Linked DNA regions of Homo sapiens: all the other regions are reported to be linked to region 1. The links are microRNA targets in miRTarBase. Many come from high-throughput screens and were not tested one by one. Region 1 holds a microRNA gene; each other region holds the end of a gene's coding sequence.
The links. Region 1 holds the annotated microRNA hsa-miR-4797-5p (GACAGAGUGCCACUUACUGAA, at 2,353-2,373, shown strand). A microRNA usually pairs through its seed, bases 2 to 8, with sites in the 3' UTR of a target mRNA and lowers its output. Matches are read on the target gene's strand: a 7mer-m8 pairs with bases 2 to 8, a 7mer-A1 pairs with bases 2 to 7 and ends in A, and an 8mer does both.

Region 2: miRTarBase lists SLC35E1 as a target of hsa-miR-4797-5p. Seed matches in the 3' UTR shown: 7mer-m8 at 1,885-1,891.
Region 3: the mRNA of VAPB is a reported target of hsa-miR-4797-5p. Seed matches in the 3' UTR shown: 7mer-m8 at 1,275-1,281, 7mer-m8 at 1,937-1,943, 7mer-m8 at 2,812-2,818 and 7mer-m8 at 3,903-3,909.
Region 4: miRTarBase lists SOCS3 as a target of hsa-miR-4797-5p. Seed matches in the 3' UTR shown: 7mer-m8 at 1,330-1,336 and 7mer-m8 at 1,936-1,942.
Region 5: miRTarBase lists ZNF419 as a target of hsa-miR-4797-5p. Seed matches in the 3' UTR shown: 7mer-m8 at 2,226-2,232.
Region 6: miRTarBase lists PPIL6 as a target of hsa-miR-4797-5p. Seed matches in the 3' UTR shown: 8mer at 2,346-2,353 and 7mer-m8 at 1,927-1,933.
Region 7: the mRNA of MOG is a reported target of hsa-miR-4797-5p. Seed matches in the 3' UTR shown: 7mer-m8 at 2,269-2,275.

The regions. Positions count from the first base shown.
Region 1 is chr3:197,292,215-197,296,291 of GRCh38, reverse strand. MIR4797 (microRNA 4797) reads left to right here and starts at 2,344; the gene lies at 2,344-2,414. The region is part of intron 3 of DLG1 (discs large MAGUK scaffold protein 1); the gene reads left to right.
Region 2 is chr19:16,549,892-16,553,968 of GRCh38, forward strand. It overlaps SLC35E1 (solute carrier family 35 member E1), which reads right to left. Exons shown (of 6, transcript NM_024881.5): 6 at 1-4,018. The coding sequence ends at 3,788. Among named protein-coding and RNA genes, the nearest start is that of CHERP, 9.5 kb to the left of the region's middle.
Region 3 is chr20:58,443,745-58,447,821 of GRCh38, forward strand. It overlaps VAPB (VAMP associated protein B and C), which reads left to right. Exons shown (of 6, transcript NM_004738.5): 6 at 333-4,077. The coding sequence ends at 491. Among named protein-coding and RNA genes, the nearest start is that of VAPB, 57 kb to the left of the region's middle. RefSeq lists an enhancer at 2,733-3,234.
Region 4 is chr17:78,354,831-78,358,907 of GRCh38, reverse strand. It overlaps SOCS3 (suppressor of cytokine signaling 3), which reads left to right. Exons shown (of 2, transcript NM_003955.5): 2 at 1-2,130. The coding sequence ends at 490. Among named protein-coding and RNA genes, the nearest start is that of SOCS3, 3.2 kb to the left of the region's middle. RefSeq lists enhancers at 1,422-2,071, 2,129-2,628, 3,454-3,503, 3,827-4,077 and a silencer at 2,207-2,394.
Region 5 is chr19:57,493,491-57,497,490 of GRCh38, forward strand. It overlaps ZNF419 (zinc finger protein 419), which reads left to right. Exons shown (of 5, transcript NM_024691.4): 5 at 1-2,608. The coding sequence ends at 600. Among named protein-coding and RNA genes, the nearest start is that of ZNF773, 4.4 kb to the right of the region's middle.
Region 6 is chr6:109,389,342-109,393,418 of GRCh38, forward strand. It overlaps PPIL6 (peptidylprolyl isomerase like 6), which reads right to left. Exons shown (of 8, transcript NM_173672.5): 8 at 874-3,596. The coding sequence ends at 3,485. Among named protein-coding and RNA genes, the nearest start is that of CD164, 8.9 kb to the left of the region's middle.
Region 7 is chr6:29,670,476-29,674,552 of GRCh38, reverse strand. It overlaps MOG (myelin oligodendrocyte glycoprotein), which reads right to left. Exons shown (of 8, transcript NM_206809.4): 7 at 3,832-3,852; 8 at 2,188-3,381. The coding sequence ends at 3,368. ZFP57 (ZFP57 zinc finger protein) reads left to right here. Exons shown (of 5, transcript NM_001109809.5): 5 at 795-2,070. The coding sequence ends at 2,053. Among named protein-coding and RNA genes, the nearest start is that of ZFP57, 8.6 kb to the left of the region's middle.

The sequences.
Region 1 (4,077 bases):
ATTCATTTATTTTAAACTTAAGAAAATGATGTACTTAATTCTCTGAGGCATTCGGTAACTTGAACATCTTCAGTGAGTTGTGTGTTTTTCATAGGCCAGTGTCCTTTCTTAAAATAACTAGTAACCAAAAAACTTTCAGGATTATTTCAGTGGCTTTTGAGAACATTGTTTCACATCTTAATAGCATTAACTATTAAAAGATGTTGCACAGATGTTTAAGGACCTAAAAGGTATGACTGAGTTACTGTGAGCTTGTTTCTGTATTTGACTGGCATGTCTCTGAAGTCATTGAAAGCGTGTGAAGGGTTCTGCTGTGTTGAAGAACATTCATTCCCTTAATGTAGATTTCTGTTTGAGCTTGGCATTCATGGAGTCAGAATTTTAGACCTGGAAAATAATCTTAGAGATGATCTTGTCTAGTAACCGTATTTTACAGGCAAGAAAATGGAAAGTTTTATTCTTAATTGTAACTTAATTTGAAGTGGTGCATTGTTTGAAAGAACTGGAAAAATAAGAGTCCTGAGTTCTTTTGCCACTAATTGAATGATATATCCCAAGTCATTTAATCTTTTCTATGCCACCATATTAGCTGTAGAATGTAGCTGTTGAAATGACAGAATGGGTTTAAAGCCTTTTTTAAGTAGATAAATCATTTTTAAAAGCATCATCTCATATTTTGTGTATAATCTCCTATGTATAAAACAAGGTGACTTGTCTGGCTCTTTTGTCCAGGTACCTCAAAAAGTTTGCAAACCACCGAACTAGAAAGTTTGTCTCTTCCAATTCTAAGAATGAAGTTTTTTTTTTTTGTTTTAGTTATCAACTATATAACATTTTAACATAAGAAGACATATACTTAATTATATTACATTTATTTCTTCAGTAACTTCCAGTCAGATATGGCCTTACATCTATCTGTTGATAGAATAATTGTTGGTGTGATTTGAAGACTACTTTCAAGTCAGTGTGTCCTGTCAGGTACATTATTGATAAATGGATGCTCTCTACGGTTTTAGAATGAAAGATTTTTGTAAAGACCACTTGATGCACCTGAACAATTTTGAAAAATGTAACATTTTAATAGACTTTTAAAAACATAAGGATACATAGCACAGTGTAATGAACTGCCTTTTAACTGTTACCCAGCTCCAGAAATTCACATTTTGCCATTTTTGTTTACATTGATGGACATTTTTTACACATTTGAATTTCTGAGGTTTAAGGTCCGAATGGATGATCAAATTGGATTCCTCTGGAAAAACAGCAAAAAGCATTTTTTAGTTATTTGTTTTCTAAATCAACATTGAGCCTAGTAATTTGGTGCAGTTACTGTTGCAAAAAAAGTATGTTTTTTCGCAACAGTATAGAGATATATATATACATATATGTATAGATAGGCAGATAGATAGACTGCAGACTTTTCTTTGTGTGATGGCTGTAACTTAAGAAAATTAAATCGTTAGTGAAATAACAGAATCTACATTTATATTTCTGTCTAGATTGGGGATGGGTTTGCTGTGTTCAGAGACATTTTTGACCTATTCTGCCTTGCCTGTTTTGAATGTGTCTATTCTTACGTACAATTGAACTTTGATAGAGTTAGCTTTCTTCTCTTTTTTTTTTTTTTTTTTTTTGAGGCAGAGTCTCACTCTGTCACCCAGGCTGGAGTGCAGTGGCGAGATCTCCGCTCACTGCAAGCTCCGCCTGCCAGGTTCACGCCATTCTCCTGCCTCAGCCTCCTGAGTAGCTGGGACCAAAGGTGCCCACCACCACGTCCGGCTAATTTTTTATTTTTTGTATTGTATTTTTAGTAAAGACGGGGTTTCACTGTGTAAGCCAGGATGGTCTCGATCTCCTGACCTCGTGATCCACCCACCTCGGCCTCCCAAAATGTTGGGATTACAGGCGTGAGCCACCGCGTCTGGCCTAGAGTTAGCTTCCTAATTACTAAGTTTATATTTGTGAATCTTCTAATTTCATTGGTTGTGAATTTACTTTGACATTTAAATTTACTTATATTTAATGTTCTATAGGATGTGGTACTATATCACATTTTGGTGTAAGACAAGTAATAGATTTTAGGAGTTTTGAAATAGATAACGTTTAATAGAGGTTCTGTGTGTTTCCATGCTATAATTGTTGATACTACGGAATAAATACATTCTCTTGTGTTTCCTGAATAACTTTTAATACTTAGTCTGAAAATGTTTAGTCTGATAAGATTTTCTTTGTATTTTGCAACTCTACCATTGTTTTGAAACAGTGTCATAAATGTACTTTAAGCTTGTAAACTGCCCTAAGCTAAACCAGTTCATTGTGTCCATAGTGTTTGCAGAAAAATCCGACTCAGAAGACAGAGTGCCACTTACTGAAAGGTTTTTTCTCTCAGTAAGTGGCACTCTGTCTTCTGAGTTGGTACCTGTGGACCACTGGATTAAAGGAGAACAGGGGTCTTGGCCACCTGAGCTGTTTGGAGTCATTGAGTGCTTAGATTTTTCACTTCCTTAATTTGGAAATCACTTGTTTAGGCCGCAGTGAGTTATCTAGTTATCTGTTTGGGGTGCCAAGTGTCTTTGGATTTTCAGTCTGCATTGATCATTTATTGATTGATTCTTTGAACTGGTAGTTTATATTGACTTTTCATGCATTTAAAAAAGTTTGAGTCTCTAGGGGTTTGGTGTCCCCCCCTGTAGTTGATACATAGATTAGGTTCCTGTACTTTTGGATTATTCAGAGGGACAAGCATGTACGTACTGTATTATATTTGTTCTAAAATACCAACTGTTAAATATTTCAATATCTGGTATATGTCATTTTTAATTGACAGTGTTTCTGTGTTCTGACACATGAAATAGTGCATTTTATAATTGATACTCGCAATGTAATATAGAAATCATTGGTCTAGTGCTGATAGATACTTGGTAGTATCTTTGAAGGATGGCTTAAAGATTTAAAAATTATTGAAAGCAGAAAAGTTTTTACTAATTTTGAATTTCAGCTGATGTATTGTTTCTTTAGAGCTAAATATTTAAAGTTGTATCTTAACAAAAGTCCATGAACTGCACATTTGTTTAAAATTTACTCCCAAAACATACCTGGTGATTATTTTTGTATAAAGGAAGATAAAGTCTGCTTAATTTCACTCTGTGATTTAGGTGAGAGCAATTTGAAAACTTGCTTTTGTATTCCAGTTTTTTGTGCTTAAGTTTGAAAATTTTTTGAGTAGACGGGATATGGTTTGATTATAATCAGAGCCCAGGTATTCAGGTCCATAGTGGTTTCAGTTCATTCATGATTCTAAGGTGTGTGGGATCTGAGATGACACTGCTAGTCCATAGAGACTTCATACCAGTCTAAACCCCTGCAGTTATTTCTTACGGGATCAGAGAACTCATCTGCTTTCCTTGTGCATGAGAAAAACTGGGGCCCAAGATTAGGCTGGCTTTAGAGACTTGAGTAAGTTGAGTCATGTGATTTGTATATTTTGTCTGCAATAAATAAGCTTATTCTAATGCAGTGTTTTATTTCTGCAGAGATTTCAGAATGAAAGTGGATTATGTAATAATACTGTCCATTTATGAGTTTAGTTACCAGTTCATTTGTTGCCACTCTATTAAAATCTAATAGTTTCACTAGCCCTTATAAAAGGACATTACCCTATCTTTATTTGTAGATACTAGTTTCAAAAGTATGACCCCTTTGCCATCTTCACCATCTTTAAATGTACAGTTCAGGAGTGTGAAATGTATTCATATTGTTGTGAAACAAATCTTCAGAACACTTTCGTCTTGCAAAACTGAAATCCTATACCGAATAAACAACTGCTCCCCTTTCCTCTCACTTCCCAGCCCCTTGTGACCAACGTGCTGCTTTCTGTTTCAGTGAATTTGATCATGTTAGAAACCTCATAGAAGTATTTGTCTTTTTGCGACTGGCTTATTTCACTCAGTGTAGAGTCCGCAAGGTTCATTCATGTTGTAGTTGTTGACAGGATTTTCTTCCTTTTTCAGGCTGAATAATATTCCGTTGTATGTATATACCGCATTTTATCTAGCCATCCATTGATGGACAGTTGGG
Region 2 (4,077 bases), not on the chromosome of region 1:
ATTCCTGCAGAAAAGTCTATAGCATTTAAGTCTTGAAAACAGGTGACAATTGAAAAACATTATAATATTTTCAGGTCTTTTAATAATTCAATGCTCTGTGTCCTTCAGGCTGTGAGACCCTAAGGTATTGGGGTCTGGTAATGTCCCAGCTATAGCAAAGGGCCTGTTGGGTGACATAGGACAAATATACAGCAAAATTCAGAAACTGCAAGTGCTTCCTCACTTGAACGGATCTGGCCCCTTTGTGGTAGGGGCTTGACTGTTCCTAGAATGAATGACTTAAAATAAGGTGGTTAAAAATTCTGCAGTGAGTCTCGCCATGGTGAACAAACATGATTCAGAAATGCCTCCTTCTATAAAATGAAGGAGCTGGGTTGGAGTCAGTATTACCAGCCAGACCATACCCTGATGGGTAAAGGAAATTCTCTACCACAGAGCTCAGCAGTGAGGTGGCTGAGAGGAAGGCAGGCCTGCAGATGAAAGCGTGGGAGTGGAGCATGTGGGGCGGGCACTGTCCGGCTGGGAAAACCCAGCCTTCAAGAGGCCATTGTCAATCAGGCTGGGCACGGTGGCTCATGCCTGTCATCCTAGCACTTTGGGAGGCCAAGGTGGGCGGATCATTTGAGGCCAGGAGTTCGAGACCAGCCTGGCCAACATGGTGAAACCCTGTCTCTACTAAAAACACAAAAAATTAGCCAGCCGTGGTGGTGCATGCCTGTAATCCCAGCTACTCGGGAGGCTGAGGCACGAGAATCACCTGAACCCGGGGGATGGAGGTTGTAGTGAGCTGAGACTGCGCCACTGCACTCCAGCCTGAGCAACAAAGCAAGACTCCATCTTGGCAGGGGGCGGGGGGATGTGGACCTTCAAGTCTCAGAAATATGTGTTTGTCTTTTGATCTGCTGATTTGGTGTAACGTGATTGCCTCATTCATTCCAGTGTACGTACTTGCTGTAAATTTATATACAGAATTAAATAGCCCATTTATTAATTTATAAACCATAATAAAACCAGACAGTCATTTCCCGTCACCAGCAGATCTTGCATTGGAAAAGGAAAATAATATACAAATTTCAGCAACTTCAGAGATTTCAGGAAGCCTGAATGGAGGTCGAATTCATTTTGGAGTTCAATAATATGTTCAAAGAATCAGGTACTATATATAATCATATAGACAACTCCCGTAATATCTCCGCAGTGCAAAATTATCCCTGTTTCTTGTCATTCACCAGTGAGAAAAATCCAACTGCAGACTTGACTGCCTTCGGTGAAGGCACACGGCAAGTTCTTCTGACAAATAACACCCTTTGGGATTGACTCTTCACGTTTTACACAGCAATTGTCTCAGCTTGGGACCAAAGTATTTACAAAGCAAGCGAACAAGAGACGAAGCAAGAGGGACACTTCTGAGGCCGGTGGTGCGGAAACTCACCGCCAAACAGGGTGGGGGGCCAGTCACCTCTTCAGGAGTGTCCCATGTGTCAGCTGACATAACATCTTAAATACAGAATTCCAATTGAAAGAAAAACAAACAACAACAAAAGAAACACCAGTCAAGCATAAGTGATGTTACTTCCTCTCTGAACAGGGAAACATCTCGCTCGCTGGGAGATAAAAGGTAAATCTCTCATTTGCTGCTCTCTTCCCCTAAGTGCCAGCAAGAAGCTGGGTGTGGTGATGAAGAAAGAAGGCAGCCATCACCTAAGACCCCACAAGCCAAGCCGTGGTCCCCTCCGTGAGGGCACGGTCCTTTCATGAAGCCGTAAAAGAGACCACAGCTCGGACCTGAGCACTCAGGGTTACCTACTGGGGTCTTGTCATATTCCTTATGTTGATTTCTGCCAAGACCCAAACTGATTCCTTTTTTTTTTTTTTTTTTTTGAGACAGAGTCTCACTCTGTCACCAAGGCTGGAGTGCAGTGGTGTGATCTCAGCTCGCTGAAACCTCCACCTCCTGGGCTCAAGTGATTCTCCTGCCTCAGCCTCCCAAGTAGCTGGGATTACAGGCAGGTGCCACCATGCCTGGCTAATTTTTGTTTTAGTAGAGATGGGGTTTCACCATGTTGGCCAGGGTGGTCTCAAACTCCAGTGATCCACCCACCTCAGCCTCCCAAAGTGCTGAGATTACAGGCATGAGCCACCACGCCTGGCCCCAAACTGACTCTTGACCAAAGAATCTGATTTGGCAAACCAAATCTTAGTGCAGTGTTCGCTCCTCGTCCCCTTACCCAGAACATGATTCAGATCCTAACATAAACACAAAAACAGGTCAGGGAACCAAAACACTGTGGTCTTGTCTATTATACAAAATATTGAGATAATGTTCACGATTCATTCTGTTTTCAGCAATTGTGACAATTTTGAAGCTTCTCTCGAAGCTTCGAAACACTTCATTTCCTACTAAATACCAAAACGTGTCAGACAGGCATCACCAGTGGGAACTTGGTTTTGTTTTGTTTTTTTTTTTGAGATGGAGTCTCGCTCTGTTACCCAGGCTGGAGTGCACAATCTCGGCTCACCACAACTTCTGCCTCCCAGGTTCAAGCAATTCGCCTGCCTCAGCAGCCTGAGGAGCTGGGACTACAGGCACGCGACACCATGCCCGGCTAATTTCTGTATTTTTAGTAGAGATGGGGTTTCACTATGTTGGCCAGGCTGGTCTCGAACTCCTGACCTCGTGATCCGCCCATCTTGGCCTCCCAAAGTGCTGGGATTACAGGTGTGAGCCACTGTGCCTGGCCGGGGAACTTTGTTTTTAAACGTTTACAAACAAAAAGATTTTCGATGCATAGGCCAGTCCTAATGCATCCCATAATGGGGACCAAGGCAAAAACACACACACACAACTACAAAATATTCCCTAGAAAAATGCAAGATCCTCCGAAAATCAAGATCTCTCTACCAAACAACATACCAAGTCATCACAGAAGAGGTGAAGATGCCTCTCAAAAGACATGTGCCACAGAAATAGAGCTTGAAATACTGAACACGATTTCTCGAAGATCCTTCTCACCACCCCAAGAGAAGCGCCCTGCTCTGGTGAGGGAAGAGGAGGCAAAGGAGAAGAGAGAAGTTTCCCTTCCATCTGGATCTGGGTGGATGCCAACCCTGACGTGCAGGGCAGAGCACCAGGCTGCAGGAACTGGATGCTAATTGCAATCGCTTTTTGCTTTGGAACATTTGCCAGGAACTTGTGAACTGCTAAGGGGATGACCAGGAAACTGGATCCATCTCTGTGGCTGGGGATGTTTTGAATGATTCTCGCGGGCTCCCTGTCTGCTTGGTGACCCTGTTGGTCCTATGCGTATCTGCGCCAGGGAATTAAACTAGCCAGTCTGACGTTCTCAAGCACCGCCCTGGACACCCCCACTGCCAGTTCATGGTCTACAGCCACAGTGACCCCAGCTTTTCACACAGGTCCTGAATGTTATCTGGAATGCAGACACAAGTGCTCTGAGCTACACTGCTTGGGGAATAATTCCACATGGAAAGGTACAACGTGGCCAAGATCTCCGCAGGGACACGGCCCTCAGATGACAGACTCCAGGAAGAAAGAGCATGAGACACTGGTCTCTGTTTAGGTTTGCCCAGAGCTCACGGCCGTCTGCACTGCAGGCAACGCATCCTCCTGCGGCTCACGGGGGGCCAGGAACCCCAGGGCTTCTGATGGAGAGTTATGCACCGTCCCCTCGGCTGGGTTGTACATTCACTGATTGTCAGAAGTTTCTGATACTGCTGTGGGGGCCGGGGAAGGAGTCACCAACAGTCTGGTCCTGTCCTTTGGACTCTACACATCATAGCGGTTCAAACTGTACGAGTTTGGGTAGCTCTGCCGGCTGTATTGGAAGTGGTCTGTTAAGATGTTGTTGCGGCCGTACTGATAGTCCCCGTGCTGGGGGAAGAGGAGGCCGTTGTGGGGCTTCTCCAGTGGGCTCCGGTGACGCTCCTTGCTGCTCAGGTCTGCTGTGGTGACGGGGAGGAGGTGCTTCCTGGCTTGCTGGTTTGCATCGTACTTGGTCTGTGCCAGAAAGAGAGCAATGAGACAGGACATGCCCGGGGCATAAGAGCTCGTAATTC
Region 3 (4,077 bases), not on the chromosome of region 1:
GGGTGGGGCCGAGGGTGCAAAGGGCCCAGTTGACCCTTTTAAGTGCTTTTTTCTGTAAATCACGGGAAACCAAGGAGCACCCTGTTTAGATGTCTGTTGTAACTAGCAGCAGCAAGTGGAATGGATGAAAGAAAAGAGGGGACTGTTTTCTCAGTGGCTTCAGGCTAGCCCTTTCCCCTCTGTAGCCTGCAGTTTCTCCGTTTGCAAAATGCGGTTGGACCATATCATGTCATCCAACACTGGGCATAAACAGCCCATCCCGTTAAGCTGTACAGTTGACTCCCCTTTCTGGTGCCTTGGCTTGTCTTTGAAATGTGCGTTTGCTCCCGTAGGAAGAAGATGGACTGCGGATGAGGAAGACAGTGCAGAGCAACAGCCCCATTTCAGCATTAGCCCCAACTGGGAAGGAAGAAGGCCTTAGCACCCGGCTCTTGGCTCTGGTGGTTTTGTTCTTTATCGTTGGTGTAATTATTGGGAAGATTGCCTTGTAGAGGTAGCATGCACAGGATGGTAAATTGGATTGGTGGATCCACCATATCATGGGATTTAAATTTATCATAACCATGTGTAAAAAGAAATTAATGTATGATGACATCTCACAGGTCTTGCCTTTAAATTACCCCTCCCTGCACACACATACACAGATACACACACACAAATATAATGTAACGATCTTTTAGAAAGTTAAAAATGTATAGTAACTGATTGAGGGGGAAAAGAATGATCTTTATTAATGACAAGGGAAACCATGAGTAATGCCACAATGGCATATTGTAAATGTCATTTTAAACATTGGTAGGCCTTGGTACATGATGCTGGATTACCTCTCTTAAAATGACACCCTTCCTCGCCTGTTGGTGCTGGCCCTTGGGGAGCTGGAGCCCAGCATGCTGGGGAGTGCGGTCAGCTCCACACAGTAGTCCCCACGTGGCCCACTCCCGGCCCAGGCTGCTTTCCGTGTCTTCAGTTCTGTCCAAGCCATCAGCTCCTTGGGACTGATGAACAGAGTCAGAAGCCCAAAGGAATTGCACTGTGGCAGCATCAGACGTACTCGTCATAAGTGAGAGGCGTGTGTTGACTGATTGACCCAGCGCTTTGGAAATAAATGGCAGTGCTTTGTTCACTTAAAGGGACCAAGCTAAATTTGTATTGGTTCATGTAGTGAAGTCAAACTGTTATTCAGAGATGTTTAATGCATATTTAACTTATTTAATGTATTTCATCTCATGTTTTCTTATTGTCACAAGAGTACAGTTAATGCTGCGTGCTGCTGAACTCTGTTGGGTGAACTGGTATTGCTGCTGGAGGGCTGTGGGCTCCTCTGTCTCTGGAGAGTCTGGTCATGTGGAGGTGGGGTTTATTGGGATGCTGGAGAAGAGCTGCCAGGAAGTGTTTTTTCTGGGTCAGTAAATAACAACTGTCATAGGGAGGGAAATTCTCAGTAGTGACAGTCAACTCTAGGTTACCTTTTTTAATGAAGAGTAGTCAGTCTTCTAGATTGTTCTTATACCACCTCTCAACCATTACTCACACTTCCAGCGCCCAGGTCCAAGTCTGAGCCTGACCTCCCCTTGGGGACCTAGCCTGGAGTCAGGACAAATGGATCGGGCTGCAGAGGGTTAGAAGCGAGGGCACCAGCAGTTGTGGGTGGGGAGCAAGGGAAGAGAGAAACTCTTCAGCGAATCCTTCTAGTACTAGTTGAGAGTTTGACTGTGAATTAATTTTATGCCATAAAAGACCAACCCAGTTCTGTTTGACTATGTAGCATCTTGAAAAGAAAAATTATAATAAAGCCCCAAAATTAAGAATTCTTTTGTCATTTTGTCACATTTGCTCTATGGGGGGAATTATTATTTTATCATTTTTATTATTTTGCCATTGGAAGGTTAACTTTAAAATGAGCCCTATCACTGAGAAATACGTGTTTCATGATTTAACTCTGTGTGTGTGTGTGTGTGTGTGTGTGTGTGTGTGTGTATTTTTTTTTTGGTTGTCTTCAGCTGACAGTATGAAAAATGAAACTGCTGAAAAAGCTGAGCACCTGGTCACCCTTGGCCTTCCATTGCTTTGGCCTTCAGTAAAAAGCAGCCTCCCTTCTAGGTCAGGGAACCATGCCATTGAGACTAGTAACGGGCGTTCTGGGCACAGTCCCACTGTGCACAGGTTTGAGAGGACAAGTTCATCAGAAGGAAGGCAGTCCTTAGAAGTCACATACGTTGAGCCACGTTGCTCCTAAGCCTGGCTCTGTCAAGCTGGGTCAGGGGCCTTGAAACTGGAGAAGTGGAAGTCTATGGTTGGTCTGAGTAAGTAACTTCCTGTCTTCATGAAAAAAGTTGACTTTGAATCCCAGGTACTCACAGAAATGGTGAACAGACTTAGTTGTTACCCAGGCACCCATGGATTGTGTTGAGTGTGCAGACAGGGAGGCCACCCCAATAGGAATTCGTCTCCAGGATTTTTCCCATGTGTCCCCCAGTACTTATAAAAGGGAGTGAAAAGACCGAGCTGTAAGGCATGTGCCTTCTGCCACCTGACTTTCCGTGAGGGGACTAAAATTTACTAATTGTAGTTGCTGCAGCCAGTTAAGTCCTGTAGCTTCCAGGCCCTCATGTCTTTGATAGGAGAGTGCTTAGGTGGTCCCCAACAGTGCCTAGGGGTACAGTACAGTCCCATTACACTAGAGCAGGGCTCTATTTATTTTTAAAGGATATGGCCGTGTGTTTTGATAAAACTTTATTCACAAAAACAGCCGGGTCATGGGATTTGGCTTGTGAGTCTGTAACAGTTCTTAAAAAGAATATCTGAGAAACTACTCTGTTTTAGACCTTTGAAGGTGATTTAGAGTTTTGTGTACATCTAGGAGAAGGTGTTCAGCTTCTCAGAGGATGTGGACATTTTGGTTGCAGCTAAAAATCAGTCTCTGAAGTCTCTCTCCCTTCTAGAGGTTAGGACTTGGTGAACATGTTTGTGGGCCTTTTGACTGAGTGGCAGAAGGAAACTGCTCAGGAAGAGAAACAGGTGACTGATGGGAAGGTTGATTATTTTCTCAGTCATCCTGGCAGCCAAAAATGTGCCAGGAAAAGAAAGAATGTGGAGCACGCGTGGCTCCTGGAGGACTTGGAGATGCATGCACATTTAGGGTGTTTTCCCTAGAATTACATAATGAAAAAAAGAATAAGGCAAAGAGGAGGTGAATATGGGGCCTGTCACAACGGCCTGCCCTGCCCCAAGAGGGTTAAGAGTCAGATAATCGGGACGAAACTGGCATGGAAAGAGCGAGCCTAGGGAGGATGCCGCTGGGCAGTGTGCATGGGGGAGCTGCTGCCAGGCTGCCCTCCAGTCTGCTCCTGTGGTTACTGGCTCCACAGCACCTCAGAGAGGGCGGCCCTGGCTTCAGAAATGCCAGCCATAGTGCTCACAAATGCAGAAGAGATGGAAGCGGTGACAGAATCCTGAAAGTTTTTATTGATTGAAGTTTTAAATTGGTAACTTAAGCTTCCTTGGCACGATACAAAATACCTCTTAAAGACAGCAGGCTTTTTTATTTGTAGGTGTGAGGAACTGGCTTTAACTTTTTTCTCCTCCTAGTTTGCATGTTTTCCTTCTCTCGTCTTCTGAACTGCTGGCACCAGCAGTAATACATACTGATAAAATCAAAATTGATTTTTACCAGTGGCCAGTTTATGGCTAGAGAGACGACTTATACCTCCATAACACAGAAGGGGGAAAAATGAAGAACCTCCAGTGATCCGTGAAAACCTAAACGCTTTCAAACAAATCCCAGGAACAGAATTGCTATCGAAAGATATCATTGCCCAGTTTGCAGGCTATGTTGAGTCAGATAGAACTGAATGTAGTGAGAGCTCAGAGCTACAGAGCCTTTCAGATGAATTTGAAAACAGACTCTGTGTGTGTGTGCATGTGTGCATGTGTGCATGTGTGGCATATGTGCCGTATGTCAGTAGCTTGACAGTTTTCAAATCGTGCCTATATTTTTTTGCATACACAAATTTTTGTGTTTGCAAACTCAGAATCCATGCCAAAATACAATGTTATATGTCATTTTCAGCTCCTTCT
Region 4 (4,077 bases), not on the chromosome of region 1:
GCCCGCCGGCACCTTTCTGATCCGCGACAGCTCGGACCAGCGCCACTTCTTCACGCTCAGCGTCAAGACCCAGTCTGGGACCAAGAACCTGCGCATCCAGTGTGAGGGGGGCAGCTTCTCTCTGCAGAGCGATCCCCGGAGCACGCAGCCCGTGCCCCGCTTCGACTGCGTGCTCAAGCTGGTGCACCACTACATGCCGCCCCCTGGAGCCCCCTCCTTCCCCTCGCCACCTACTGAACCCTCCTCCGAGGTGCCCGAGCAGCCGTCTGCCCAGCCACTCCCTGGGAGTCCCCCCAGAAGAGCCTATTACATCTACTCCGGGGGCGAGAAGATCCCCCTGGTGTTGAGCCGGCCCCTCTCCTCCAACGTGGCCACTCTTCAGCATCTCTGTCGGAAGACCGTCAACGGCCACCTGGACTCCTATGAGAAAGTCACCCAGCTGCCGGGGCCCATTCGGGAGTTCCTGGACCAGTACGATGCCCCGCTTTAAGGGGTAAAGGGCGCAAAGGGCATGGGTCGGGAGAGGGGACGCAGGCCCCTCTCCTCCGTGGCACATGGCACAAGCACAAGAAGCCAACCAGGAGAGAGTCCTGTAGCTCTGGGGGGAAAGAGGGCGGACAGGCCCCTCCCTCTGCCCTCTCCCTGCAGAATGTGGCAGGCGGACCTGGAATGTGTTGGAGGGAAGGGGGAGTACCACCTGAGTCTCCAGCTTCTCCGGAGGAGCCAGCTGTCCTGGTGGGACGATAGCAACCACAAGTGGATTCTCCTTCAATTCCTCAGCTTCCCCTCTGCCTCCAAACAGGGGACACTTCGGGAATGCTGAACTAATGAGAACTGCCAGGGAATCTTCAAACTTTCCAACGGAACTTGTTTGCTCTTTGATTTGGTTTAAACCTGAGCTGGTTGTGGAGCCTGGGAAAGGTGGAAGAGAGAGAGGTCCTGAGGGCCCCAGGGCTGCGGGCTGGCGAAGGAAATGGTCACACCCCCCGCCCACCCCAGGCGAGGATCCTGGTGACATGCTCCTCTCCCTGGCTCCGGGGAGAAGGGCTTGGGGTGACCTGAAGGGAACCATCCTGGTACCCCACATCCTCTCCTCCGGGACAGTCACCGAAAACACAGGTTCCAAAGTCTACCTGGTGCCTGAGAGCCCAGGGCCCTTCCTCCGTTTTAAGGGGGAAGCAACATTTGGAGGGGATGGATGGGCTGGTCAGCTGGTCTCCTTTTCCTACTCATACTATACCTTCCTGTACCTGGGTGGATGGAGCGGGAGGATGGAGGAGACGGGACATCTTTCACCTCAGGCTCCTGGTAGAGAAGACAGGGGATTCTACTCTGTGCCTCCTGACTATGTCTGGCTAAGAGATTCGCCTTAAATGCTCCCTGTCCCATGGAGAGGGACCCAGCATAGGAAAGCCACATACTCAGCCTGGATGGGTGGAGAGGCTGAGGGACTCACTGGAGGGCACCAAGCCAGCCCACAGCCAGGGAAGTGGGGAGGGGGGGCGGAAACCCATGCCTCCCAGCTGAGCACTGGGAATGTCAGCCCAGTAAGTATTGGCCAGTCAGGCGCCTCGTGGTCAGAGCAGAGCCACCAGGTCCCACTGCCCCGAGCCCTGCACAGCCCTCCCTCCTGCCTGGGTGGGGGAGGCTGGAGGTCATTGGAGAGGCTGGACTGCTGCCACCCCGGGTGCTCCCGCTCTGCCATAGCACTGATCAGTGACAATTTACAGGAATGTAGCAGCGATGGAATTACCTGGAACAGTTTTTTGTTTTTGTTTTTGTTTTTGTTTTTGTGGGGGGGGGCAACTAAACAAACACAAAGTATTCTGTGTCAGGTATTGGGCTGGACAGGGCAGTTGTGTGTTGGGGTGGTTTTTTTCTCTATTTTTTTGTTTGTTTCTTGTTTTTTAATAATGTTTACAATCTGCCTCAATCACTCTGTCTTTTATAAAGATTCCACCTCCAGTCCTCTCTCCTCCCCCCTACTCAGGCCCTTGAGGCTATTAGGAGATGCTTGAAGAACTCAACAAAATCCCAATCCAAGTCAAACTTTGCACATATTTATATTTATATTCAGAAAAGAAACATTTCAGTAATTTATAATAAAGAGCACTATTTTTTAATGAAAAACATGACTTGAGCCTTTTCTGCACCCCTGCCCCCCCGCCCCCCGCCCCGTGCCTTGCTTTCTCTTTCACCCACACCCACACTCTGCATCGGAGAGGAGGAAGAGAGCCGCAGAGGGTGGAATCGAATACGTCTCAGCCTTACGTCAGCACGCCTGCCTCGTGTGTCACTGACAAGCTAAGGCAGCCACCTAGACTTACCGAGAGGGGTAATTCCTGCAAGTCTGATTCAGATCTGACCAGAATATGCAAAGCAAGTTCGAAGGAAGCGCTTCAAAGGGCTTGCAGGGAGCAAGCTGAGCTGTGGTCAAAGCTTTTAGAGGCTCCAGGCTATTAGAGGCGCTCTGGTTCCTTGGCAGGGAGTCGTTCCGAGAAAGCCCAGACATGGGGTCCTAGTGGTGACCTATGACCTCAGTCTAGCCAGGTTCACTGGAAGTGGGGGGAGGGGTGGTCCTGAAGCAAATCTTGCATGCAGGTGGAGCCCCACCCCCTCCCCCACCACAGGACCCCAGGCATTCAGGGGCTTCCTGGCCACTGCTCCCCATGCCTGCTTCCCTTCCCCGTTCCTAGGGGCCCCAACCTGAGCAGCGGACAGGATCACCCTCCTCCCAAAAAGCACCCATCTATTCATCTCTCTCTTTTTTTGAAACAGGGTTCGCTATGTTGCCCAGGCTGGTCTCCAGCTCCCGGGCTGAAGGTATCCTCCCCTCAGCCCATCTATTTTTAGTCACTCTCATTTAAACACTAAGGGGCACTTAGAGGTTACCTGGATTAAGCATCCCACCTGCTCCCACAAGGCAGGCATTCTCATCCCCATGTTCTCAGACATGGCCACGTGCCCCATGTGAGCCAGGACTTGGACTGGTCACTTCTGGTGCCTAGATTGGTGCTCAGTAAATATTTGTCAACTAAGTAGGGGCAGCAACTCAGGTTCAGGGAGGTTAAGCAACCTGGCCAAGGGCACACCACTTGGGAATATGGGGAAAACAGGATTGGAACCCAGGAGCATTTGATTTCCAAAGCCCATGCCTCTCTGCCTCTCTATACACTCAGCATATACCTGCCCCCGGAGTGAGTCCCTCCTTAAAAGCCAAGAGGTTAGTACCCTTCCCCCCAACTCTGGGGTTTCAGCACTAGGGTTCTTCTAATAGCAAAAAACGTCTTCTCTCCTGTAATCCAGCACTTTGGGAGGTCGAGGTGGGCTAAGGGCTGGAGCCCAGAAGTTCAAGACCAGCCTGGGCAATATAGCGAGACCCTGTCTCCATTTAAAAAACAGAAACCAAAAACAAAAACAAAACCACCTTCTCTGAGGTATTCTCCTTTCATGCCTCCTTCTCTGATCCCCGTGACCTGACAGCTGGGAAATGAGTGTTAACCCCAAGTCAGGGGCCCTTATCTCTCTCAGATGACACAAATACCAGAGCCTCTTCCTGGCCCCCTTGCACCCAATATACTGCTCCAGGAATCGGGGTCCAAAAGGCAACAGAGAGTAAATAAACAAAGTCGTTTTTCTTTCCTATTTCCTGGGACTTTTGGAGAAAATGACCTGAAGTGACGAGAAGGGGCCAGGCCAGGCACGAGGCGGCTGAGGGGACAGAGCATATGGGAGCCACACCACAGGCATCATGAAGGAACTCCAGACTGGCAATGTAAACCCAGGTAGGGCCACCTTCCCAAAGCACAAGTGCAGGTGAGGGGGCCCAGTGGGGTGTGGCTCCCCAGTGCCTTCCAGAAGGATGATGAGTCTTCCTCGCCCTGGGGTCTGCTGGTCAGCCACCACTGCCTTCAGCTGCACAGAGTTCCCCTTTCACTGGAATAACAGCCATGAGGGAACCGTGAACCTGGGGTCCTTGTACTTTTTTGTTTTTTGAGACAGGGTCTCACTCTGTCACCCAGGTTGGAGTGCAGTGGCGCTATTATAGCTCACTGCAGGTTTGAACTCCCGGGTTTG
Region 5 (4,000 bases), not on the chromosome of region 1:
GTAAGGCCTTATGAGTGCAGTGAATGTGGAAAATTGTTTAGTTTCAACTCCAGCCTCATGAAACATCAGAGAATTCACACTGGAGAAAGACCTTATAAGTGCAGTGAATGTGGAAAATTCTATAGCCACAAGTCCAACCTTATCAAACATTGGCGTGTTCATACTGGAGAAAGGCCTTACAAGTGCAGCGACTGTGGGAAATTTTTTACCCAATGCTCAAGCCTCATGCAACATCAAAAAGTTCACACTGGAGAAAAGCCTTTTAAGTGCAATGAATGTGGGAGATTCTTTAGAGAGAATTCCACCCTAGTTAGACATCAGAGGGTTCACACTGGAGCAAAGCCTTATGAGTGCAGGGAATGTGGGAAATTTTTTAGCCAAAGCTCAACCCTCATGCAACATCGAAAAGTTCACATTGGAGAAAAGCCTTTTAAGTGCAATGAATGTGGGAGATTGTTTAGAGAGAATTCCAGCCTTGTTAAACATCAGAGGGTTCACACTGGAGCAAAGCCTTATGAGTGCAGGGAATGTGGGAAGTTTTTTCGCCACAACTCCAGTCTTTTTAAACATCGAAGGATTCACACTGGAGAAATGCAGTGATTGTGTGAAATCCTTTAGCCAGCGTTTCAACCTCATTCAACACCAGAAAGTTCACAGTGGAAAAAATCTTGAAGGTAACAGATGGAAATCCGTTAGCCACACCTCCAGTCTCATTCAACACTGGACAGTTTACAATGTGGACAATGTAGTGAATATGGAAAAAGGTTTCAGCCAAAGGCCTAACCCTATTCAACACCAGAAAGTTTACACTGGAGAAAGGCCTTAGGGTGACAGGTTATGTACTGTCTCTGAATCAATATGACCTCACTTAAAACAGAAACTCTGAGGATGGCCTTTATGAGGGAGCTGGCAATTGAACATCATTCATCTAAATATGCACACTGGAGGCAAGATGAGAATTCCTGACAGATTGTCCTTCCTGAGAAGACAGCCCTCTGCCTTGGAGCTCCAGAGAGAGGGAGCCCTGTATTCTTGGCTGTACCCGTCGAATGGAGTTTTGATCTCGCTGAGTTTGGAGTTGGGGGAGGAAAGGAGTGGTCTTGGTTCAAATGTGACTCACTTTTGCTGTTCTTGTGAATGTTAGATCTTCTTTAATAAATATTTATTTCCCATACACCCTTATGACCATTTCCAGAGACTGAATTGTGTTTTTATAATTTTCACCCTTTTGGCTGTGTAACAGGTCTGCAAAGCTCCTCATTCAGTTATTCTGTAAGTTGATCCAAATGTTTCAAATTTTAAGAACTTGCCAAATTGTGTTCTAAATGGTTAGCATTTCATATTTCCTCCTGGAATATATTAGATTTTCCATTTCTTCACATTACTGACAGTTTATATGTGTAGAAGTCATAGGCCATTCATTTTAGCCATGTTACTAAGTGTGAAGTAGTATTTCATTGTAGTTCTTAATTTGTATTTTTCCGATGACTCAGTTTTGAGCATTTTTTAATGTGTTTACTTGTCACCCATATATCTTCTTTAGTCAAATGTATTTTTTGCCTGTTTTTTAAAACATTTGGTTGGTTACAAGTTCTTAATATTTCTGGAGACAAATTCCTTATTTGATATAAGCATTGTCAATATTTTCTCATGGTCCATGGCTTTTGTTTTCTTTTCTTTTTTAAAATTTAGAGATGAGGTCGTGCTATGTTGCACAGACTAGTCTCTAACTCCTGGCCTCAAGTGATCATCCTGCCTCAGCCTCCCAAAGTGCTGGGATTACAGGCATGAGCCACCATGCTTGGCCTTGTTTTCAGTTCTTAACAGTATCTTTCCTAGAGCAGATTGTCTTAATTTTATGGAGCCCAATTTATCCATTTGTTATTTTATTCATTGTGCATTTGGTGTTGCATCCTCTTACTATACCATATCTTTGCCTATAAATAAAAGCCTTGACTGAGTGCGGTGGCTCACGCCTGTAATCCCAACACTTTGGGAGGCCAAGGCGGGTGGATCACGAGGTCAGGAGATTGAGACCATCCTGGCTAACACAGTGAAACTCCCTCTCAACTAAAAATACAAAAAATTAGCTGGGCGTGGTGGCGGCTGCCTGTAGTTCCAGCTATCCTGGAGGCTGAGGCAGGAGAATGGTGTGAGCCCGGGAGGCGGAGCTTGCAGTGAGCCGAGATTGCGCCACTGCACTCCAGCCTGGGGCACAAAGCCAGACTCTGTCTCAAAAAAAAAAAAAAAAAAAAAAAAAAAAAAAAAAAAAAAAAAAAGCCTTATGTGAGTATGCTACTGTAATCTTATGAATCTTTTTAAATATCCAACTTCTGAAATATTTGTAGGTTTAACTACAAATAAATAATTCAATATATAGATAAATGTGTACATATTCCCTATCTTTACTGAGAGCCTAGCAAGCCATGGCATTCCAGTAGTTTTGAGCACATTTAATACCCAGTTATTGGTTTATATCATTTTTTAATAAAAGGAACCAGAACTCCTTAGAGAAGAGGCTGTTTTCAAGTTGTGGCAGAAAAGGTACAACATGATTTGAGGAAATACTGCATTGGAAAATAAATAAATGTTCACAGAATAATGTTGACATATTAGCTTTTTATTGCTATCCTGACAAATCACCACAAACTTATGGTTTAAACAACACAAATATAACAGAAGTCTCACTGGGTTAAAATCAAAGTGTTGGCATGATTATGTTCCTTTCTAGAGTCTCAGGGAGGATCTGTTTCTTGCTTATTTCAGTTGTTAGCATATTTAAGTTCTTCGTGGTTGTAGGACTGAGATTCCTTTTTCTTGATGGCATCAGCTGAGGGTCATTCCTAGGATATATAAGAACTTTTATGAAAAAGGAAGAAGTAATACCAATTGTATACAAACTTCCAAGAGGACAAAGGTTCAAAGAATTCTGGACTATATGAAAGTTAGCATTAACAGGACACTAAAGCAGGCAATGACATTAAACAAAACTATAGACCAATAATCACATGAATATAGACACAGAGCCTTAAGAAAATTTTAGCAAATTGAGGCACTCGTCCTTCAAATCACCCCCTTGGGTCTCTTCCAAGCATACTTGCCTTTCTTTCCTGTTCTAAAGCCTTTTTAAATAAACTTGCACTCATGCTAAAACAAAACAAAAAGACATTTAGCAAATTGAATCCAGCCATATACAAACAATAATAAATCATAACCTAGTGAGGTTTATCAATAATACAAGTTTGATTCAACAATTCAAACTCTTTATTAATCTATATTAGCAGACTAAAATGAAAATCTCAAAATGTAATAAAAGCATTTTACAAAATTCAAAACTAGGTTATGATACATGCAACAAATTAAACAAGATGGTGATTTCTTCAACCTGATACAGCACATCTATGAAAAACAGCTAACAGCACATTTGATATATATGTGATCAAATATTTGATAAGCTGATTTTCCCCAACATTAGGAATAACATAAATACGTCAACATTCATCACTTCTCATTAAAAAAAAAATCTAATGATTGTAAAGGCAGAACCCAAACTGTCTGTATTTACATATGACATGATAATGTTGAAAATTCGAAATTATCTACTAAAAAGCTACTAGATCTAATAATTGAGTTTAGCAAGGTCCTAAGATAAAAAGGCCAGTGTATAAAAAGTAGGTGTCTCTACTAGGTTGGTATATAGCTAGCAAATACATGCTTGGCAACTGAAAAAATGTACTTCACAATAGCATAAAAATATGAAATATTTAGAAATAAATTTAACAAAATATGTTCAAGAACTTTAAAACATTCCTGAGAGACATTAAACAAGGCATAAATAAATGACACAAGAAGTTCCTGAATCTGAGACTTAATACTTTGAAGTTGTCAGTTTTCCTTTAACTATCCTAATAAAAACCTAATCTTTTAAATAAAAATTTACAAATGTATTCTAAAAAGTTACATGGAAATACAAAGGGCCTGGACTAATTGCCAAAACAAT
Region 6 (4,077 bases), not on the chromosome of region 1:
AGATAAAGCGTATGTACTTGACTTTGCCATATCAGCAATTAGGGCAAGTTTAGACATATAACTTAGCATTTTGTGTAAATCATCAGAAGGCCTTTATTGTCCTATTTGTAGATGTGGAAAAATCTAGAATCCCTTCTGTTTAATTAGTGTATTTCAGTTTGGTTAAATCAAAGTCTTACATGTGGAGTTCATTGGAGTAAACTTTTGAGTCCTTCTAACAATCAGTTTCTTCAACTATGAGGTTAAACATACAAATCATTCTAGCACAGAAGTATCAGTGTGTATACTTTTAAGTGCTGGTGATAAGAACCACTGCATGGATCTGTGGTTGAGGTTTCCACAGCCCAGAAGTGGAAAGTTAGAGTGAACAAAGGGACCATGAACTCGCCATCCTTGAGAAGACTGGCAGAGTTCTACCTTTCTATTGCTGCTGACAAAGGGAGCTGGAATCAGTTTCTTACACCCACACAAATATCCCAGTTCTTTCACAACATCAGATAAAATGCCTAATGCCATTAATATATAGGTTCATCACCAGTAAGAACTGCCCTGCTGTTTGTTATTACATGAGTAACGCTTGTCATGTGTTTTAACCGGGCTCCTTGCAAAGAATCAGTTTTCATTCACCAATTGTTTTGAATCCTGGTGGCAAGCCCAGCTCCCTTTTGTCTGAGATGTCCCCAGTGTGACCTGAGGAACCTGGGCAAAGGCCCAGCGAGAGGGTCTGGAAGCTCTAGACAAATCACCCGAGTTCTCAGACTGCCCAGAAGTCTGTGAGTACAGGAAGAGGGAGACTCTCCTCAGGGATTCCCAAATCTGGCTATCAAAGTCATTGGAGAGCTTTCAAAAAGTCCAAGCTCTGAGGCTACACCCTGAAGGTTACACATTAGTAATTTATTATTAAATTTATCGAGTGCTTACAGCAGACCAGGTCTCTTATAGGTTCTTTATAGAAATTATTGATTCATGGAACCCTCACAGCAATCTTATGTGGTAGGTACCACTGTTTCTCAGATGAAGGAATTGAGGCACAGAAAAGTTCTTGCCTGAGTTTGTGCAGCTAGGGAATGGCAGAGCCAGGATTCTGGCCCTAGAACACACATTCTTAACACTATGTTGCTCTGGGTCAGTTGAGAATGTAACATAGGCGGTCTGCTTCCTCCCATCCACCTCAGGTCTTAGCATAAAGCATATGTCATATAGCAATAAAGCTGTCATTAAAAGGAAAAGCAAATGCCAGTTGTCAGGAGTTAGGGATGGCAGAGGGCAGGGGAGTGGGTTGACTGTAAAGGGGTACTGGAAGGGGGTCTTTGAGGTGCTGGAAAGGTTCTATATTTTCTCTATAGTGTTGGTTACATGAATATACTCATGATAAAATGGCATCACACACATTGTACCAATGTCAGCTGCCTGGTTTGATATTGTACTACCGTTTTGTAAGCGTAGCCACTGGGGAAAATGGGTGAAAGGTACACAGGACTGCTCTGTACTATTTTTGCAACTTCCTGTGAATCTATATTTCAAAATAAAAAGTTAAAAAAGCCTACGCCTACTTTTGGCAAGCCTCATATCCATTAGAAGCCTGCCTCTTTAAGACTGATGTAAATAGAGATTGTTCTTGGAAGACAAACCTCATTCTGCTTAGGGTAAGAAAAGCACTCTCAGCCGGGTGCGGTGGCTCACGCCTTTGTAATCTCAGCACTTTGGGAGGCCGAGGCGGGCGGATCACGAGGTCACAAGATCGGGACCATCCTGGCTAACATGGTGAAATCCCATCTCTACTAAAAATACAAAAAATTAGCCAGGCGTGGTGGCAGGCGCCTGTAGTCCCAGCTACTCGGGAGGCTGAGGCAGGAGAATGGCATGAATCAGGGAGGCAGAGCTTGCAGTGAGCCGAGATTGTGCCACTGCACTCCAGCCTGGGCGACAGAGTGAGATTCCGTCTCAAAAAAAAAAAAAAAAAAAAAAAAAAAAAGAAAAGCACTCTTAGTCTGGGCAGAGCAGGGGCACAGGGTAGTGGTGGTAACAGGAGCTGAGCAAGGTCACCAATAGCAGAGTCAAGCACTCTGCTGACTACATTACACCATGGGGACTGGAACCAGTTCCTTATGTCTTGCAGTGATTCCCAGATGACTAGTGCCCAGCTGTCTAAATGGGAACCCTGGGGAAAGAGCTAAATGAACACAGAATCTGTGCCCCACGCCTGGGAACCCTGGGGAAAGAACCAAATGAACACAGAATCTCTGCCCCACGCCTGGGAACTCTGCCTCAGTAGGTCAAGGACAAGGTCTGTTAGGTTACATTTTAAAAGCTCCCCAGGTGATATGAGCTTGAGAACTTTAGATTACAGAGTAGTGATAAAGCTGAATCTCCAATAACATCACATGAGTCAGCCACCACGGACACTGTAAAACAAGCCCTTGGTTTTCATAGGGTTGGTATGGCTCAGAGAGATAAGGATGATGTTCATGTCATATATGAAAACATCCAAAGTGTAGATACTCTTTCTGAATGCTGGTATAAACAATGAAATATTACAATGAATTGCTTTTTCTTCTGCATCATTCCTATTTGGTTACTTACCAAGTTTCTCCTAGGAGTACATGTAGTTACAAACAAGAACATAATTCTATTACAAATGTCTTAGGCTATCAGGTGTGTTGCTAAATTAAGAATTTTTTGTCCACAAGTAACAAAATTCTCAACCAACAGTAACATAAACAACACAACACAGGGCTCTGTTAGTCTCCTATAATAAGAAGTCCAGAGTAGGTGGTTGCTGGTATTGGTCCCGCAGCTCAAGAGACTGGGGCTGACATCTCTGCAGTACTTGGCCTTTCTTTTTTTTTGAGACAGTCTCTCTCTGTCGCCAGGCTGGAGTGCAGTGGCGGCATCTCGGCTCACTGCAACCTCCGCCTCCCGGGTTCAAGAGATTCTTCTGCCTCAGCTTCCCAAGTAGCTGGGACTACAAGTGCATGCCACCATGCCCAGCTAATTTCTGTAGTTTTAGTAGAGACAGGGTTTCACCATGTTGGCCAGGATGGTCTCAATCTCTTGATCTTGTGATCCACCTGCCTCGGCCTCCCAAGTGCTGGGATTACAGGCGTGAGCTACCACACCTGGCCTCAGCCTTTTCTTTATGGCCACAAGATGACAGCTGTAGCTCCAGCCTCTCCACATTCCAGACTGGATGAAGGGGAAGGGGCAGGACCACTGGCGTTCTATTCCTGTCCCACTGGCCAGAACCATCTCTCATGGCCACCCGTGGCTGCAAAGGAGTCTAGGAAATTGAGTACCACCCTTTCACAGTCTCTATGACAGAGACAGGAAAGGAAGATGGGGAGGGATTGGGTGTAGATGAGGCAACCTACAGTGTCTGCCACGGCTTTCAAATTACAATTTATCAAGTACTTTTTAATTAAATCCACAAACAGCTGATCAGATACAAAGTAATAAATTATCACAGAAAATATTGATATGAAAATCAAGCATAAGGATCTCCACTGTCAGTAATTCTACACATATGTATTGGTCTTTCATTCTGTGTTGGAACTAATTCTAGTTGTTTAAGCACTTCTGTTCCTTCAATCAGTTGCCTACATAGGAGAAAAAAATGGAAAATTTAGTCAGTCATAAGTTTTCATATTTAGCTTAACATTCCGAAATGGGGTCCTACCCAGCTATAGCTAAGACTATTTCCTACAAATTGAATGAACATCAGCTCTAAGTATCCTAAACCTCTCTGGATGTGTGCACTTTACCACACCTGCAGTATCCAGGGCCATCATCCAGGCAGCTGGCCTCCTGCCGCAGCTCTAAGCTGGCTTCCTCCATCTGCTTGGCACCCTCCCCTCTGTTTTTCTCCCTGCAGTCAGGGTGATTTTTTTTTTTTTTGAGACAGGGTCTCACTCTGTTGCCCAGGCTGGAGTGCTGTGGCATGATCTTAGCTCACTACAGCCTTGACCTCCTGGCTTAAGTGATCCTCCTGCCTCAGCCTCCTGAGTAGCCAGTGCTTACCAGGTGTGTGCCACTAGGCCTGGCCAATATTTTTGTTTATTTATTTTTGTACAGATAGGA
Region 7 (4,077 bases), not on the chromosome of region 1:
TGCATTATTATGTGGGTGTCTGTGGATTGTCTATGGGAGTTTGAGCAATATTGAGAATGAGATAAGATAGATTTCAAGAAGTGTTGTTGTAAGTTAAAATTTACATTTCTGACAGTGTTGAAAGATTCCAGTTAACTTTTTATTTGCTTCTAATTTGAAAAGCCAATTTTTTCTTTTTTTCTTCTTATTTCTAGCCTATGAGGCCCAAGGGTAAGGATGAATGTGTTGGGTGGGAGAGCAAGGGCAGAGACAAGAAGTGTGTTAGGCTGAATGGAGTGCTGTGTTGGAGTTCTTCTTCTTCCTCTTCTTCTTCTTCTTCGTCTTCGTCTTCTTCTTCTTCTTCTTTTCTTTTCTTCTTCTTCTTCTTCCTTCTTCTTCTTCTTCTCCTTCTCTTCTCCTTCTCCTTCTTCTCCTTCTCCTTCTTCTTCTTCTTTTTCTTTCTTTCTTTTTTTTTTTTTGAGACAGAGTTTCACTCTAGTTGCCCAGGCAGGAGTGCAGTGGCACCATCTTGGCTCACTGCAACCTCCGCCTCCCGGGTTCGAGTGATTGTCCTGCCTCAGTCTCCCTAGTAGCTGAGATTACAGGCAGATGCCATGACGCCCAGCTAATTTTTGTATTTGTAGTAGAGACAGGGTTTCACCATGTTGGTCAGGCTGGTTTCGAACTCCTAACCTCAGGTGATCCGCTGGCCTCGGCCTCCCAAAGTGCTGGGATTACAGGTGTGAGCCACCATGCCAAGCCTCTGTTGGAGTTCTTACAGTGAATTTTGTGTTATTCTTCCTCATTCACTGTAGAAGGCAAGAAGAAAGAGCTTCGAGAACAACATCCCAGTCTGAGAGATGAGGGGACTAGTGATGACAAGGTCTTCCTTGCATGCAGAGGGGCCGGCCAGTGCCCCCTATCTGCCCCAGCTGGGACTATGGACAGGACCCGGGTGCTTCAAGCATCCCAGGCTGGGCCACCCTTTTTTTGCTACACCTGTGGCAAATGTTTCAGCAGGCGCTCCTACCTCTATAGCCACCAGTTTGTTCACAATCCCAAGCTGACTAACAGCTGCAGTCAGTGTGGGAAGTTGTTTCGGAGCCCCAAGTCCCTCAGCTATCACAGACGCATGCATCTTGGGGAGAGGCCCTTCTGTTGCACGCTCTGTGACAAGACCTACTGTGATGCTTCTGGACTAAGTCGTCACCGCCGCGTCCATCTGGGTTACCGGCCCCATTCATGCTCTGTGTGTGGGAAGAGCTTCCGGGACCAGTCTGAGCTCAAACGCCACCAGAAGATACACCAAAACCAGGAGCCAGTGGATGGAAACCAGGAGTGTACTTTGAGGATTCCAGGCACCCAGGCTGAATTCCAGACACCCATCGCCAGAAGCCAGAGGTCCATCCAGGGGCTTTTGGATGTGAACCATGCACCAGTGGCCAGGTCCCAGGAACCCATATTTAGAACTGAGGGTCCTATGGCCCAGAACCAGGCATCTGTACTTAAGAACCAAGCACCTGTGACCAGGACCCAGGCACCCATCACTGGAACCCTCTGTCAGGATGCCAGATCCAACTCTCATCCAGTGAAGCCCTCAAGACTCAATGTCTTCTGTTGCCCCCATTGTTCTTTGACTTTTAGCAAGAAATCCTATCTCTCCAGACACCAGAAGGCCCACCTCACAGAGCCGCCCAACTACTGCTTCCATTGCAGCAAGTCTTTCAGCTCATTTTCCAGGCTGGTCAGACACCAGCAGACCCACTGGAAGCAGAAGAGCTACCTTTGCCCTATCTGTGACCTCTCCTTTGGGGAGAAAGAGGGCCTTATGGATCACTGGAGGGGCTATAAAGGCAAGGACCTGTGCCAGAGCAGCCACCATAAATGCCGGGTGATCCTGGGCCAGTGGCTTGGCTTCTCTCATGATGTCCCCACTATGGCTGGGGAGGAATGGAAGCATGGAGGTGATCAATCTCCCCCCAGGATCCATACCCCCAGGAGAAGAGGCCTAAGAGAGAAGGCCTGCAAAGGAGACAAAACAAAGGAGGCAGTGAGCATCTTGAAACATAAATAAATGGCCTTTCTGACTGAGCTCTTTCTTTGTGTTTAGTTTTCCTGAGGACTGACCTCTGGGGTAATGAGGCTGGAGTAGAGGGAGACAGGTGCGTGGATAAGGAAGGAAATACATAAAAGACAAGGGGTTAGAAGTGTGCTTATGAAAACTTGTATTATTATTTTTTATTTATTTATTTATTTATTTATTTATTTATTTATTTATTTATTTTTGAGACAGAGTCTTACTCTGTCACTCCGGCTAGAGTGCAGTGGCACGATCTCAGCTCACTGCAACCTCTGCCTCCTGGGTTCAAGCGATTCTCCTGCCTCAGCCTCCGGAGTAGCTGGTATTATAGGTGCCCACCACTATGCTCAGTTAATTGTTTGTATTTTTAGTAGAGATGGGGTTTCACCATGTTGGCCAGGCTGGTCTTGAACTCCTGACCTCGTGATTCGCCCGCCTCGGCCTCCCAAAGTGCTGGGATTACAGGCGTGAGCCACCGCACCCGGCCAAAACTCGTATCTTTATTAATTAGCACCTAGCTTGTTTGTTTGTGTCTGACCATCAAGTAGTAGTTGTTGAATAAACAGTGGATACTCTGATAGATATGAAGATAGGAGAAAAGGATGAGAGGAAGGAAAGATTCTGAGACCTGTGGAAGATGTGTAAGTAGAAGGAAAACATTCTAAAGCAGGCATGTTGCCCAGCTTTCGTTTTTGCTTCCCCAGGTCCCTAGTAGGCTGCCAAGACAAGGAGGAGCTCTGGCTAGTATTCTGTAGGTTTCTCCCCATCTCCAGGTTTGGGTTGGGGCTACTCATATCCTCACTCTTCAGCTCACTCAGCTCTCTCTTCAATGTTTTGCACTCTTCCTCTTCCTTCCCTTCACATGCCTTTCAGTTTTGCGCAATCAGGGCTGGAGTCTTGGAAGAAACAACCACCATTTGCAAAGTTACCATACTGTAATTTTCAGTGAGGAGATTCCTGGCCTCCAGTTCATGGCAGAGACCATCCTGTGTTGCTCTCCAGTACAGGTGTCCTCTGATGGAGAGAGGGGCACCTGCCTGTCCTTAGCCAGAGAGGGCTTCCAGGTGGAAGACTGGAGAGAGAAATGGAAAGAAGGGTAATAAAAATGGGAAAATGAAGAGAAAAGGTAGATGACAGAAGAAGGGAAATCAATTCTACTTGGAATTCAGAGTGTTCCTGAAAGTGCAAATTGGAATGTCCCCATAGCAAAGATGCCAGTGAGTGTGCAACTTGATGGATGAGATGTCCCCAAGGACAAATCCCTGGGCAACCAGGCTCTCCTCCACCCCTGCCAAGATGTGACATCACTCAGAAGGGATTTCCTAGAAGAAGGAGAAAATAACTTGAAAAACGTATGTCAGTAGTTTGTATCATAAAACCATTGAACTAGGGAGAAGAAAAGCCCTTGGGGTCATCTTGTCTCCATTCCTGCCTCAATGGTTGATCTGAGAGGTGAGGCACTGGGCAGTTGCTGTGGAATGGGCAATGAGACCAGCTAGGGTTGGATTCCTGCTTAGGGGCAGTGAAGGAGGAATGGATCAGGTGGCAGATAGGAGTGCCTCCAGCTTCTCTGCCACCTGTAAATGTGTCTCTAACAGCTGGCTTCTTTGCCCTCTACCTCCCAGGAGGAGTCTTCCCTCCACCCAGGCTCTCCAGCTCCTCCTTTCCTCTGGGAATGTGATCCCTCAATAGCCCGCCTCTTCCTCTTGTTGCTTCTGTCTCCCTTTCCTGGCTTTTTATTCTCTGCTTATAACAGAGAGAAGAGAACTTACGTAGCTCTTCAAGGAATTGCCCTGAAAACAAAAAGAAACAAATATGTGATTAGTGGAAGATGAATAGCACCTTCCCCACATCCTCCCTATGGACATTTGGAGTGACCCACACTGCCCTTTCCACTGGGGGATCCCACAGATCCAGTAAGTGGTTCTCTTCACAGTTTCTCAGAAGAGCCTGGGGTTGGGCATGGGGACAGAGGAATAAGGAAATCCCAGCTCCCCTAATCTTGAGTCCTGGTTCTA